Homo sapiens: one gene and its partner. The protein of the gene in region 2 interacts with the protein of the main gene of each other region in a biochemical or structural test. Each region holds a gene or a part of one and is shown on either strand. Other genes may lie near its edges.

Region 1 (7,566 bases), on a different chromosome or scaffold from region 2:
GTCAGCTGCACCTACTTTCATGATTTCACCAGGTACGTGCTTGTGCTTATTCTCAGTATTTCTCTCTACCAGGTTGTAGTCTCGAGAAGACTAAGGACAAACATCATGCCAGGTAAAGTACAGACAGTCACACTGTACTTTGCAAGTTTATTCATACTCCTGCTCTCCTAGACAACTCTTTCCCGCCTTTACCCTCCTCCCACCTCCAACACCTTTTCTATGTTCATTCTCTGCTGATTGTCCTGTTTTTCTTGCAGATAAGTCAAGCAATAAAATAGAACATCGACAAACTTCTATTCCATTATCTACCCAACTACTTGTATCTGTATCCATGGTCTCTGCTTATGAAAGTTCCCGTTTTTATAAGTAAACTGTTCCTGCTCCTAATTAAGACCAACCTCTCCTCATTTTGCCCTAGATTCCATCTCCTCTTTCCTACTCGATATATTGCCCCATGTATTCTTCCCTTTTTTGCCCCTCATACCAATTTAAATCTTTTTTCATTGGATCATTCCCACCCATTTAACAAACGTTTGTTATTTTTCCCATCTTAAAAAACGAAACATTGACCGGGCATGGTGGCTCACACCTGTAATCCCAGCACTTTGGGCGGCCGAGGTGGGCGGATCACCTGAGGTCGGGAATTCAAGACTAGCCTGACCAACATGGAGAAACCCCGTCTCCACTAAAAATACAAAATTAGCCGGGCATGGTGGCGCATGCCTGTAATCCCAGCTACTCGGGAGGCTGAGGCAGGAGAATCACTTGAACCTGGGAGACGGAGGTTGTGGTGAGCCGAGATCGCACCATTGCACTCCAGCCTGAGCAACAAAGAGTGAAAAACTCCATCTCAAAAAAAAAAAAAAAAGTAACATAACTAGACATACCTTCCCAACTTCAGCTTCCAACTACCACTTCACTCCTTTGCTGCCCCTTGTAGGAGAACTCCTCAGAAACTAATCCCATATCCAATTTCTGGCAGATGGAAAATAGCTGAAATCATGCTTCTCTGAAACGTGTGTGGCTTTTGTTATTACCTTTAGAAACCGTCACAGGAACGGGGAAAAAGTGCAGCTTGCCGGCCGAGGAGGATTCTGTGTTAGAAAAACTAGGGGAAAGGAAACCATGCAACAGTCAACCTTCTGAGCTTTCTTCAGAGACCTCAGGTAAGTTAGGAAAACAAAATGAACTCTTTGAAACAAATTAGGGGCGATAGAGTAGTGATGGTAGACATTGTCTCTAGTTCCCTGTTGTATGGTGGTAATCAGCAGTATAGTTTATGAAGTCAATTCTCTTAGACAGATTTTATCTGGTTTAGACAGAATGTCAGCTTGTTATATCTTTAAAAATTACTACTACAGCAAATCAGGATACCTAATTTTTTTTTTCTCCACTGTTTTTTTTGTTGTTGTTGTCGTTGTTTTTTTTTTTTTGAGACAGAGTCTCACTCTGTCGCCCAGGCTGGCGTGCAATGGCGTGATCTTGGCTCACTGCATCCTCCACCTACTGGGTTCAAGCGATTCTCCTGCCTCAGCCTCCTGAGTAGCTGGGATTACAGGCGCCTGCCACCATGCCCGGCTAATTTTTAGTAGAGATGAGGTTTCACCATGTTGGCCAGGCTGGTCTCAAACTCCTGACCTCTGGTGATCTGCCCACCTCAGCCTCCCAAAGTGTTGGGATTACAGGCGTGAGCGACCGTGCCTGGCCTTCTCCACTGTTTTCATAGTGAAGAAAGGACACCCAAATTTTGATCTGGTTCAGCTATTCACTATTCTATCCTGTGTGGTCTTAAGCAAGTTACATAACTTGCCTATATCTCAGTTTACTTAGCTATAATATAAATTAATTGGTCAAATGTTCTCTAAAGTCTTACTAGTTACAGTGTTCCATGGCCCAACAGCATCTACATTACCTGAGAGGCTGGTAGAAATGCAGAATCTTGGGCTCTACCTTAGGCCTTTGTAATTATTATCTGCATTTTAATTAGATCCCCAGATAATTCTAATTTTCATTAAACTTTGAGAGGTACTGCTCTAAGATACTTTCCAATTTAAAGTTTGATTATTCAGTGAATTTGAAGATTACCTGTTTTTAATAACCCAGAAGCATATGTATATGATTATCAACTTGATTTTCTGTTTACTTTTCTGTGACTATGATTGGAATGTGGACATCCTGACATATGGGACATAAGGGCCCATGACTTATTTCACTTAGAATCTCTAATGCTTTGCACACTACCTAGCACAAGACTAGAGCTTAAATAAATGTGTGATTTTTTTTTTAAATGTTGTTTTACTGACTCAACAAATCAGTAAAGATTTATCAAGTGCTTATGGTATACAAAATACACCATGTTAAGGCATATAGATATTTAAGTCCCCGTCCTTGCCCCCTGAATTATTATATTATAACCTGAATGAAGAGATAAGTTCTCAGGCATGAACTCTGAAACCCAAGATTTACATAATAATTGAATAAAATAGTATAAAAGATGGCACTGAATAGCTGCTGATTAATTGCTGAATTAAATGTTATAAATACTGGGGGATACTATAGCCTAGCAATTTTTTGAGCGATGCAATAATTAACCTGAGATATTAAACAAAGGCTAGGATTTAGAGGATATTGGAGGGGTAAGGACAAGAATGAAATCCACTATTTACATATTATAATATTCTTGGAAATCAATTTATTGGGTCAGACTTGACAGGAGCTGGCATATACCTGCTCTTAATGAGACTCTTGCCAGGATCTTGGATCCATATTATATTAACTGGGAGGAAGGTTAGACCAGATCACCTGCTGAAACTCTTCCAAAGGTACTCATCTTAATTGTTAAAATTAATTATCCTACTTAACATTATATATATTTCTCTGTCTTTTGGGAAGTACATTTAGGAGCAGAATGTTGAAATTTAACATATTTGTCTTTCAAAGTAGGATGCTCTGGTTCTGGAATCATGAGAATTTTTCTCTGACCAAAATGTGGATTCAGTATATTTTGTGTGTGTGCGTGAAGTGACTTAAGTCTGGCCTTCTGATCTAGTTCCCAGAATCTGTCTGGTTTGTTTGACAAGTATTAGTTTAATATTGGTGACCTAGTCTTAGAATTATAAATTTTGTCCAAAATCATGTATATTTAACTGAAGCAATTAATAAATTTCACCAAAAAGAGGCAAGCACTAAGAATGACCAATATAAATCAGATGAGATTTACAGGCAGTAAGTGCTTATTTTTAGAGGTTAAAAGATGTGAAATGTTTCATTTTTAAAAGTTCAATCCTGCTACTTCTGAAATTTCAAATATTTTATAAATGTTTGAAAACAATCTTTACCTGAGATGATGATCTGTTAAATATTTTTGCTAGCGCCAGTTAAAAGTGAGAAATGTTTTAGAAAAGACTGTTTTCCTGAGCAAATTACAGTAAGTACTATATGTATTAGTGAAAATAGCCTCCTTAAATTAGTCATTTATATGGTCTGGTTTTTTTGTTTGTTTGTTTGTTTTTTGTTGTTTTTAAGAAACAATAACGAGGAGTTTTTTGTTTGGAATTTTAGCCAACTTCATGTATTGCGGTACCCCTCCCACACAAGCCAAACAAGTTTGCAGACCCAGTGACCGCAGGTCAACCCGGCCCAAGCCTGCCAGGGTCCCTCCTGAGCTGCTGGGAGGCTCTCCTCCATGGAAGACTCTTGATCACAGGCTGGGCCACTGCTCTTTGTCTGAGTCAGGTTGGGTCTCTGGTTCATCCTCCTGTGGTGGGCCTGGGAACCAAAGAAAAAGTATTCATGTTGACTCACTTGAACCCCAGAGGGATCTTGGCAGGGAGGCCTGGGATATAGAAAGCACACCAATAATGATGAAGAAAAAGAAGAAGAAACCAAAGCAAAAGAGATATTCTCAACCACGGGCTGGAGGACCTTCGGATGATGACAATGCAGATAAGCCTAAAGGTCATCCATTTGCAGCTGACACACAAAAATCAGGTGTTCTCCCCAGCCAGCCTACCACTATGGGTACAGAATATGGACTTGTATCTGGAGAAAACTTGAAAAGGGAATGTTTAGTTAACTCCAGTGCAGCCAGACTGGTAGCTGAGAACTTTGTCTCAGAGAGTCTCAGAATTCCTTTATATCCTTCTGAAGAAGCCCCCAAAACTGCAATAAGTTCTCAGTCTAAGCTGAGAGTAGAGGAAGAGAGCAAAAGTAACAAGTCAGTACTACAAAACCAAGACAAGAAATTGCTGAAGCAACATGAATACAAACCACAGCCTGCACCCCACCTGAAGACTCCTGTAGATAAAAGCCAGTCAGTAGGCCCTCTCAATCTGAAAGGACCCCTAGCAGAAGTTTCTGCATACAATGTAGAAACCCCTTTGGATATCAGACTTAAAGAGGGTTGCTCTCCTTTCTTGGACCAAGAGGTTATGGGTGTAGTTTCAAAACCCACAGCAGCAAAAGAAATACCAAATTTGGTACCCACTTTGATAGCAAGTAATCCATTAGAATGTAATCTAAAAGAAGGGAATAATGAAAGTAAAATGACTAAACTGCAGAATGTCAAACTGAAGGAGTTTCCTGAAGGAGCTGAAGAGGATAAAGAACTAAAAAAGGAAGCTTTTCCCAACGAAAGACAAGAGATCAGCATCTTTACTTCTGAGCAGCTGCAGGGCCAAGTGTTGGTACAGGTCCCTGGGGTAGAGAATGAACCATTTAAGAGAATGGCAGGTGATGGCAAAAGCAGGAAGGGAAGGGGAAGTTCTGGGAAAATGAGAACAGATTCTGGGAAGGTAAAAGCAAAATCTGAGCTGCCATTTCTTCTGGACAGCCAGAAGGACGGAAGGGCTGTTCTCATACCGAGTGAGCCAGTCTCTAAAACTGAAGGAATGACTACTCAGGATAAGAGTGAGGAGCTGGGGCTGAATTCTTCAAAGCAACCAGGCACTAAGGCTGATCTCACGGAGGCAGTGGTGATGGGGGAGCCTAAAGAGATGACTCAGCCTAAGGTGGCAGGCACCATGCAGGCATTGATTCCTTTGGAAAGTGGATCAGGCATGACTCAGACTTCTGGTGTTAGCACAGAAACAGGAGATGTAGTCAAAGATATGGGTGTCAATAACCAGAGCAAGGAAGGAAGGTGTCCATGGAAGGATCATGAGGCAGCTCCCTGGATTTCTGAAAAGCCTAAAAAGAGAGGCAATGAAGGCAAAAGCAAAAAGTTTAAAAATAATTATTCCACACAGCCTGCTAGAATGGAGAGGAAGGAAGAAATCCTTAACCCACCTTTTGAAGGGAAGGATGGAGATACTGGTAGTATTCCCCATAAAAGCAAGGAAATAGGATTTACTTTCCCCAAAATGCATGATTCTTCGTTCTCACATACACCAGATACACCCACAGTGGAAGCAGTTGACAGGAAGGGTGGAAATTTTCAGGTTAATTTTGTTGAGCTTGGGACTCTTGGGGAAAACAAGATAAGCACAGTCAAGGCTTCTACTGTTACTGAACCACCTGCCAAGGTGACAGATGTGAGCTGCCAAGAGCAAATCCAGGGGGCAGGATTTGTTCCTTCAGTAGTATCTGAGGAGAATAAGACAGATGCAGCCAATAGATACACTGCAGTGGCTGACAAACCAAGTAAAAGGAGTAATGATGGAAAAAGTAAAAAGGTTAAAAATAGTTCTCCTGAGAAGCACATTCTGGAGAATAAGATAGATGCAACAAAAATACATGTTCCCATGGAAACCACAGGGGACCAGGGAATTGAAGGAATGGCCTATATGGACGAAAATAGAAATATTACATTTACCTGTCCCAGAACACCATCAGAGCTGATAAATAAATCATCTCCTCTAGAGGTTCTGGAATCAGCAGCCTGTGAAAAACTGCCCACTCCTACTCCTCAAGTAGTAAAGGAAGGTGATTCCTTTCCAGATACCTTGGCAAAAAATGGGCAAGAGATAGCCCCAGCCCAGATTTCCAAATCATTAATGGTAGATAACTACACCAAAGATGGAGTCCCAGGTCAAGAAAGACCCAAGGGTCCCTCTGCTGTTGTGCCCTCTACAAGCACAGGAGGAGTTGCTCTACCTATTACAACAGCCATAGAAACAGTTAACATTCATGGAGATCACTCTCTTAAGAATAAAGCTGAGCTTGCTGATTCCATGAAAAATGAAGCAGGGATCGATGAAGGGCATGTGATAGGAGAATCTGAGTCAGTGCACAGTGGTGCGTCTAAGCATTCAGTAGAGAAAGTCACAGAGCTAGCAAAAGGTCACCTCCTTCCTGGAGTGCCAGTAGAAGACCAGAGCCTACCAGGAGAGGCCAGAGCCCTAGAAGGATATGCAGATAGAGGTAATTTCCCAGCACATCCAGTGAATGAAGAGAAAGAGACTAAAGAAGGGTCTGTTGCAGTTCAGATTCCTGACTTACTGGAAGACAAAGCACAAAAGCTCAGTTTTTGTGAGGACCAAAATGCTCAAGATAGAAATTCCAAAGGTTCAGATAGTTTGAATAAGAAGGTAGATCTGACTCTTTTGTCTCCAAAAAGTGAAAATGATAAATTGAAAGAAATTAGTCTGGCTTGTAAAATCACGGAATTGGAAAGCGTTTCCTTGCCAACACCAGAAATCCAGTCAGATTTCTTACATAGCAAAGTCGAAGCTCCTCCTTCAGAGGTGGCGGATACGTTAGTAATAATGACTGCTTCCAAGGGTGTTCGACTCCCAGAACCCAAAGATAAGATTTTGGAGACACCTCAGAAAATGACAGAAAAATCTGAATCAAAGACACCAGGAGAAGGGAAAAAGGAAGATAAAAGCAGAATGGCAGAACCAATGAAAGGCTACATGAGACCCACCAAGTCCCGAGGACTTACTCCACTTTTGCCAAAGTCTACAATCCAGGAACAAGAGAGACATAAGCAACTGAAGTCCGCTGGTATGAACCTGCCATGGGGAAATGTGTGTGCTTGTGGCTTTTGAGTCAGCATCAGAAAGGCAAAGAGCTTGTGTCTTGGCTCCATCCAGACTCTAATCATCCTTGTTAATCATTGGTTTGTTGGCATGAAACCTATAACTGCTACGGTGTGTTTTCTGCAGCCAATGTGTTCCTTGTGTCCTGCTTGAGGAGGCTGGTAACTTGGTTGCATGCCTTTTTTACCCAGCACTGAACGTTGAATTTTAGGGGAAGTTGAATTTTCAATGAATTGTCTAACAAAAGACCTATCATCATCCATTTCTTAATTTTTTTAAAATTGTGCCTCCTATGTATCAAGTTTACAGCTAAATTTTAATCATTACTTGGTATAAGGATTCACAGGAGGAAAGAAAATATTTCATGTCTAGCTATGTGCATGAGATTTTTTTCAATTTATATGTAGCTTGTGCTGGTGGGACTAAATATCCAAACTGCTTTTAGGTTAAATGAAATCAGTCCACCTCCTTATGAGGAAATGGTGGCCTCAAACCAGCATTGGTAGGCACCGATTTATTTGTGTTTCTAGTAATGGGAAATGATCTCTCAATGATACAGATACATTTTTTGACCAGTTTGTTGCTT
Region 2 (8,133 bases):
CCTGGCTAATTTTGTATTTTTAGTAGAGACGGGGTTTCTCCATGTTGGCCAAGCTGGTCTTGAACGCCCAACATCAGGTGATCCGCCTGCCTGAGCCTCCCAAGGTGCTGGGATTACAGGCATGAGCCACCGCACCCAGTCTGCAGTAAAACTTTTATTTTATTTTTAAAACAGAGATGGGGCCAGGTCCCTCTCAGAAACCCCTGGAACCAGATCCACATATAGGGAACCATGTGTTCTTCATGGAAGAGAGAGCCCCTTAGCTTTCCTCATATTCTCACGAATGTGTTTTTAAAAATTTTATCAAACACTTTTTATGCCAGTATTGAGACGATCATATGGTTTCTCTTCTTTAATCTGAGAATGTGGTGAAGTACATGAATAAATTGTCAAAGGGAAAAGAACTTTGCATTCCTGAGATAAAGCCAGTTTCGTCATCACACAGCTTTCTTTAATTGATTTGCCAGGTTCTGTTTGTTAATATTTTGTATAAGATTTTTATACCTATGTTCACCAGATTGGCCTGTAATTTTGTTTCTTGTCTGGTTTTGCTCTTAAGGACAAACTAGCGCGTAAAAATCAGTCAGGCAGTGGCAGTTCTTTCTTTAGTCTCTGGAAGAACTGGCATAAAATGTGAACATCTGGTAGGATTTGCCTGTAAGACCATCGGGGCCCGGTGTCTTTTGCGTGTATGGTGTAGACAGCGTGAGGGCAGGGGAGAGTCCATCCAAGGCAGGATAATTCATTCCAATCATTTCTCTGAAGTTGAAGGAGGGGTGGGGAAATCATGAAATCACCCACCATTCCTTTTCCTCTAAGTGAGTTAGAGACCTCATATCTAGGCTGCAAAGCCTGTGTGGGCCCTTTTTGCAATAATGTCACCATACTCAGCACAGATGCCTGCTCTGGAAGAGGTGGTGGGGAGAGTGAGGCTGTGTGTAACTGAGAATACAACATAAATAAACCTGCTGTGTTCTCCAGATCACAGGAAGATTTCAAGGAACCAAAGTCCACCCTTAAAACAGAGAGGCAGCTCAGGTTTATTTATTTTTTATTTTTAATTTATTTACTATTTATTTATTTATTTATTTATTTTTTGAGATGGTCTTGCTCTGTCACCCAGGCTGGAGTGCAGTGGCACAATCTCGGCTCACTGCGGCCTTCGCCTCCTGGGTTCCAGTGATTCTCCTGCCTCAGCCTTCCAGGTAGCTGGGCTTACAGGCACGCACCACCACACCCAGCTAATTTTTGTATTTTTTTTTCAGTAAAGATGGGGTTTTGCCATGTTGGCCAGGCTGGTCTCGAACTCCTGACCTCAGGTGATCCACCTGCCTCGGCCTCCCAAAGCGCTGTGTTTGTTGGTATGAGCCACTGCACTCGGCCAATTTTTTTTTTTTTTTTTTGAGACAAAGTCTCGGTCTTGTTGCCCAGGCGGAATACAGTGGCACCATCTTGGCTCATTGCAACCTCTGCCTCCTGGGCTCAAGCAATTCTCCTGCCTCAGCCTCCCAAGTAGCTGAAATTACAGGTGCCTGCTATCACACCAAGCTAATCTTTATATTTTTAGTAGAGACGGGGTTTTACCATGTTGGCCAGGCTGGTCTTGAACTCCTGACCTCAGGTGATCCACTTGCCTTGGCCTCCCAAAGTGCTGGGACTATAGGAGTGAGCCACCGCGCACGGCCTTTTAATTTTTTTATTTTTTTGAGACAGAGTCTCACTCTGTCACCCAGGCTGGAGTGCAGTGGCATGATCTCGGCTCACTGAAACCTCCGCCTCCTGGGTTCAAGCGATTCTCCTGGCTCAGCCTACTGAGCAGCTGAGATTATAGGCATGTGCCACCACGCCCAGCTAATTTTTGTATTTTTAATAGAGACAGGGTTTCATCATGTTGGTCAGGCTGGTCTCGAACTCCTGACCTCAAGCAATCCACCTGCCTCAGCTTCCCAAAGTACTGGGATTACAGGCGTAAGCCACCATGCCCAGCCCTCTTTTATTTTATTTTATTTTTATTTTTTGAGATAGGGTCTCACTCTGTTACCCAGGCTGGAGTGCAGTGGTGAGGTCACACCTCACCGCAGCCTCAAACTCCTGAGCTCAAGCGATCCTCCCGCCTCAGCCTCCCAAGTAGCTGGGACCACAGGCACACACCACCGCACCCAGCTAATTTTTAAAAAATTTTACTTATTTTTTAGTGGAGACAAAGTGTTGCTATGTTGCCCAGGCTGGTCTCAAACTCCTGAGCTCAAGGAATCCTCCTGCCTTGGCCTTTCAAAGTGCTGGGATTACACGTGTGAGCCAATGCATCCGGCCACAGCTCAGGTTTATCTACAAAAGCCACATGCATCCTTAGCAACGCACACATTGGACTGCCTGTGATCTGAGATTTCCCGGCAATTTCAGGGATACATGAAATTAGTTCTCTTTTCCCATGGGGGTGGTTCTGGGAACATCAGAGATATTGTGACCTGTCCCATAGAGAGTCGGGAACTTACCTGAGGCCACAAAGCAAACCCAGGGCCAATCCTGACCTCTATCAACATACACCGAAGACCTGGTCCCACAGGGACCTGCCCCGAGCCCCACCCTGTGCCCATACTCACCTCCCGACCAGTGAGGATGTGCCGAGCCAGCTTGACTTTGGCAAAGTTGCCCTTCCCAATGGTCCTCAGCAGGCGGTAGTTGCCCACGTGGGGCTGCTCCTCGGGACAGGAGGCGATGGAGTTCCGGCAACGGGCACCCAGTGAGCGGCTGGACCAGGACGGGCCTTTGTCCGAGGAGCGGCCACTGCCCAAGGTGCCATGCTGGGCGGGGGAGATGGAGCATGAGCTATCCAATCCCACCTTCCGTGGAACCCGTGGGCTAGTGCACTTAACTTGAGGCCTGGCTACCGGCCCCTCCGTGGCCCTTTTCAAACTCAGGCCCCAGAGAGCCAAGCATCCTTCATCTTTCTCTACAAAAAGACGCCTCCAGGAACAAAAGCCCCCATGTCCTCCAAATCTGCAACATTCAGGGCCCCAGGCATCACACCCCTTCTTCAACCCTCACTGCAGTCTGACTACCCCCAACCTCCTTGTCTTTTTTTTTTTCCTTCGGATGGAGTCTTCCTCTGTCACCCAGGCTGGAGTGCAGTGGCACGATCTCAGCTCACTGCAACCTCTGCCTCCCGGGTTCAAGCCATTTTCCTGCCTCAGCCTCCCGAGCAGCTGGGATTACAGGCGTGCACCATCATGCCTGGCTAATTTCTGTATTTTTAGTAGAGACGGGGTTTCACCATGTTGACTAAGCTGGTCTCAAACCCCTGACTCAGGTGATCCACCTGCCTCGGCTGTACGGATTACAGATGTGAGCCACCGCATCCAGCCCCAACCTCCTTTTCTAATTACACACATACCTCAGAGATATCGCAAGTTTGGTTCCAGACCACCGCAATAAAGCAAATACTGCAAAAAAGCAATGCACATGAATCTTTTGGATTCCCAGTGCATATAAAAATTATGGGCCAGGTGGCCAGGTGCAGTGGCTCAGGCCTGTAATCCCAGCACTTTGGGAGGCTGAGGTGGGTGGATCATGAGGTCAGGAGTTCGAGACCAGCCTGGCCAATATGGTGAAAACCCCATCTCTACTAAAAAAATACAAAAATTAGCCAGGCATTGGCACACGCCTGTAATCCCAGCTACTCTGGAGGCTGAGGCAGGAGAATCACTTGAACCTGGGAGGCAGAGGTTGTAGTGAGCCGAGATCGCTCTACTGCACTCTAGCCAGAGTGATAGAGTGAGACTTGGTCTAAAAAAAAAAAAAAAAGGCCAGGCATGGTGGCTCACACCTGTAATTCCAGCACTTTGGGAGGCCGAGGCGGGCAGATCACGAGGTCAGGAGATTGAGACCATCCTGGCTAACAAGGTGAAACCCCATCTCTACTAAAAATACAAAAAATTAGCCAGGCGTGGCAGTATGCGCCTGTAGTCCCAGCTACTTGGGAGGCTGAGGCAGGAGAATGGCATGAACCCAGGAGGTGGAGCTTGCAGTGAGCCGAGATCGCGCCGCTGCACTCCAGCCTGGGTGACAGAGCGAGACTCTGTCTCAAAAAAAAAAAAAAAAAATATTATGGGCCAGGCGAGGTGGCTCACGCCTGTAATCCCAGCACTTTGGGAGGCCAAGGCAGGTGGATCACCTGAGGTCAGAGTGTGAAACTTGCCTGGCCAACACGGGGAAACCCCGTCTCTACTAAAAATACAAAAATTAGCCGGACATGGTGACGCGCACCTGTAATCCCAGCTACTCAGGAGGCTGAGGCAGGAGAATCACTTGAACCAGGGAGGCAGAGGTTGCAGTGAGCTGAGATCGCGCCACTGCACTACAGTCTGGGTGACAGAGTGGGACTCCATCTCAAAAAAAAAAAAAAAAAAGAGAAAGAAAAATTGTGTTTACATCATACTGCAGTCTACTGAGTGTGCAATAATAGCATTACAGCTATAAAAACAATGTACATACTTTAATTTTATAATACTTTCTTGTTAAAAGATGCTAACAATCATCTGAACCTTCAGTGAATCACAATAAAACAAAATCATTGACAAGGCGGGAGGATCGCTTGAAGCCAGGGAGTTTGAGACCAGCCTGGGCAATGAAGCGAGACACCCATCTCTAGAAAAACTTAAAAAAAAAAAATTAGCTAGGCATGGTGGCATATGCCTATAGTCCCAGCTACTCAGGGGGCTGAGATGGGAAGATCGCTTGAGCCCCAGGAGGTTAAGGCTGCAGTGAGCTATGATCATGCCACTGCACTCCAGCCTGGGCAACAGAGCAAGACCCTGTCTCTAAAAAAAAAAGAGGAAAAACATCACTGATATCAGATCACCATAACAGCTATTATAATAATGATGAAAAAGTTTGAAATACTGTGTGAATTACCAAAATGTGACAGAGACACAAATTGTGCACAGGCTGTTGGAAAAATGGAGCCTACAGGCTTGCTCAACACAGGGTCGTCAGAAACCTTCAATTTGTAGAAAACACTGTATCTGTGAAGCTCAATAAGGCAAAGTGCGAAAAAGCAGGATATGCCTGTCCTGGAGCCTGGATCAACTCTACAATATTTTGCCCTAAATGAGGCTGCCCTCAACCCCAATCAACGCTGACCTCAATCTGGACTCGAGGCTCCTCCTCCACCACCACTGGTCCTGACTTGCTATTTTACCCATCAACTGTCCCCTCTCCAGCCCCCAAATTCTACTTCAAACCCAAATGTCAACATTTGATTCCCAGTGGAATGCCCCTAACATTTGATTCCAATCACTGTTACCCCAGATTGGACTCCAAACATTGTAACCAAGTCTTATTTTTTTTCTTTTTGACACAGAGTTTCACTCTTGTTGCCCAAGCTGGAGTGCAGTGGCCCAGTCTGGCTCACTGCAACCTCTGCCTCCTGGGTTCAAGCGATTCTCCTGCCTCAGCTTTCCCGAGTAGCTGGGATTACAGGCATGTGCCACCACACCTGGTTAATTTTGTATTTTTAGTAGAGACGAGGTTTCATCATGTTGGCCAGGTTGGTCTTGAACTCCTGACCTCAGGTGATCCACCCACCTCGGCCTCCCAAAGTGCTGGCATTACAGGCCTGAGCCACCACCCCCTGCAGGGTAACCAAGTCTTTCACTGGCCCTGAGACCTGGTTGAATCCCTGTTATCCTCCTTCCATGGGAAACACTGTTGCTTCTGCCACCCCCTGAAACACCCAGGGCTTGAGAAGCGCCCTGACTTGCTGTCTCCCACACCATGGCTTCTCTCCTCCTGATGTTCTGTTCCTACTGTCCTGTCCCTCCCTGGCCTCTCTCCCCCGCAGGTCACCTGCCTGCTCTGAGCTGCCCTGGCCTGATTGGAAGCCCCAGGGACTGTCTCCCTTTCAGGGCTGGGGCTCAGGGTGCCTGAGGCCTCCCGCCAAGGCAGTTCTGCCTGTGCCCTTCCGGCTGGGAGTGGGAAGCAGGAGGACAACAGGAGGGGAGGAAGAAAGGCCAAGAGGCTGATGGGCTGGGGGCCCAAGTCTCTGAGAAAGACACTGCCGGGCCACTTGATAGCAACGACAACTAACGTTTAATTAATGCTGGTCATTGATGCAATATGAGGCCATTACCACACTATTATCTCCATTTTACAGGTGGGGAAAGTGAGACCCGGACCCACGATCTGAACCCAAACAGTTTCCACCAGTATTTTTTTTTTTTTTTTTTTTTTTTGGCAGAGTTTCACTCTTGTTGCCCAGGCTGGAGTGCAATGGCACGATCTCAACTCACTGCAACCTCCACCTCCTGGGTTCAAGCAATTCTCCTGCCTCAGCCTCCCGAGTGGCTGGGATTACAGACGCCCGCCACCACAACCGTCTAATTTTTGTATTTTTAGTAAAGAGGGGGTTTCACCATGTTGGCCAGGCTGGTCTTGAACTCCTGACCTCAGGTGATCTGCCCACCTCGGCCTCCCAAAGTGCTGGGATTACAGGCATGAGCCACCGTGCCCGATAGTTTCCACCAGACTTGATGCTCTTCTCTGTCACAATACCACACTGCCTCTCACACCTGAACCTTTTTTTTTTTTTTGAGACAGGGCCTTGCTCTGTTACCCAGGCTGAAGTGCAGTGGTGTAATCAAGGCTCACTGGAGCCTCAACTGCCTGGGTTCAAGCAAATCCTCCCATCTCAGGCTCCTGAGTAGCTGGGACCACAGGAGTGCACCACCACACACAGCTGATTTTTAAATTTTTTTGTAGAGATGGAGTCTTGCTATGTTGTCCGGGCTAGTCTTCAGCTCCCAGGCTCAAGCCATCCTCCTGCCTGGGTCTCCCAAAGTTCTGGGATTATAGGTGTGAGCTACCACGCTGGGTCATGAACCATTTCTACAAAGCAGCTCATGCTATGGACCAAGTCCTGTGTAAACAGGTAACTCGCCTACACTTAATTCCTGCAGTAGCCCAGGGAATGACTCCATGTTCCAGCAGAGAAACTGAGCCTTGGAGAGGGAAGGTGCCATGTGAAGGTCACACAGTCCATTCACAGGGGCAGAAAGACAACCTCCCCACAGCTGGGCAGTTCCAACCACCACGGCCAGGGCTCTAACCACGCGTCCGCCACTGCCTGCCGTGCCCTCACCCTGGCCTCCAATGTGGGTCCAATTATGATCTGCAGTCTTCAGACGGGGACACCCAGGCTCAGGCAGGGGGAGTCCCTCCCCCAAGGTCACAGGGCAGATGGAGCAGAGTGCTGGGATGCGAACCCCGGCCTGCTGATTCCTCCTGAGTGCTGAGCCAGGCTTCCCCACAGGCCCAGGCTTCTTCCCAGGAGAGACCAGGGAGGCAGGTGGAGATCCTGGAGATAAGGCCTCCGATCCCCACCAAGATAAGGACCTGGAGAAGAAGCCCTGTCAGGTGGCGCCAGGGCAGCCAGCTGGAGGTGGGATGGCACCACGCTGAAGGCAGCATGGCTGAGGGACCCCTGCGAGGGGCAGCTGGGGCAGTGGGTGACAAAGCCCCTGGGGGCCGGGGGTGGGAGCTAAAATTGGCCTGCACCACCAGCTGGCCTGGCTCCCTCCCGCCCGGCTGGCGCCCCAACACCCGGGACTGTTGCTAGGGAACCTGGGGAGGCTGGCCCCCTGGTGGGGGGCCCTGGAACTTGGGGTGGGGGAGCATGACCCCACGTGGCTGTAGCCATGGTAACCAGGTAACAGGAGAGGGGGCTGCAACCTCCCATTCCAGAGGCAGGCAAGTGACTCCCCACCAGGACTGACAGGCAGGTCTTAGTGACAAGAGTTGGAGGAGAGAAAAGGGGATTAGCCATCCTCAAATCCGCACCATGCACGCATCTTAACAACCCAGGGAACAGCAAGTCTTCATTAGGCGTTCCACTTAACAGACAAGGAAACCAAGGCTCAGAGAGGTAAGGTTACTTGCCCGAGGTCACACAGCTAGGGAGGGACAGAAACAGGATGTGAACCCAAGTTTATCTGAACAATTAAAGTAGTGCTAATAACCACAACAGCCACGACACATGCCAGGCCCTGTGCACCTTAGTCACATCACGTCGCTGGCTCCTGCAAACATCCCTAACAGTGGGGGGCCATCATCAACCCGATTTAGAGATAAGGAAAC

Evidence for each region.
Region 1: of the proteins of MARK4 (region 2) and MAP4, one has a biochemical effect on the other in vitro, tested with the Homo sapiens proteins (one study listed by BioGRID).

Annotation. Positions count from the first base shown.
Region 1 is NC_000003.12:47,908,417-47,915,982, reverse strand, and holds part of MAP4 (microtubule-associated protein 4), read left to right. Parts: coding exon 1-32; intron 33-1,043; coding exon 1,044-1,166; intron 1,167-3,561; coding exon 3,562-6,945; intron 6,946-7,566. UniProt on the Homo sapiens protein: Non-neuronal microtubule-associated protein. Promotes microtubule assembly.
Region 2 is NC_000019.10:45,253,660-45,261,792, reverse strand, and holds part of MARK4 (MAP/microtubule affinity-regulating kinase 4), read right to left. Parts: intron 2,805-8,133; coding exon 2,604-2,804; intron 1-2,603. UniProt on the Homo sapiens protein: Serine/threonine-protein kinase. Phosphorylates the microtubule-associated protein MAPT/TAU. Also phosphorylates the microtubule-associated proteins MAP2 and MAP4.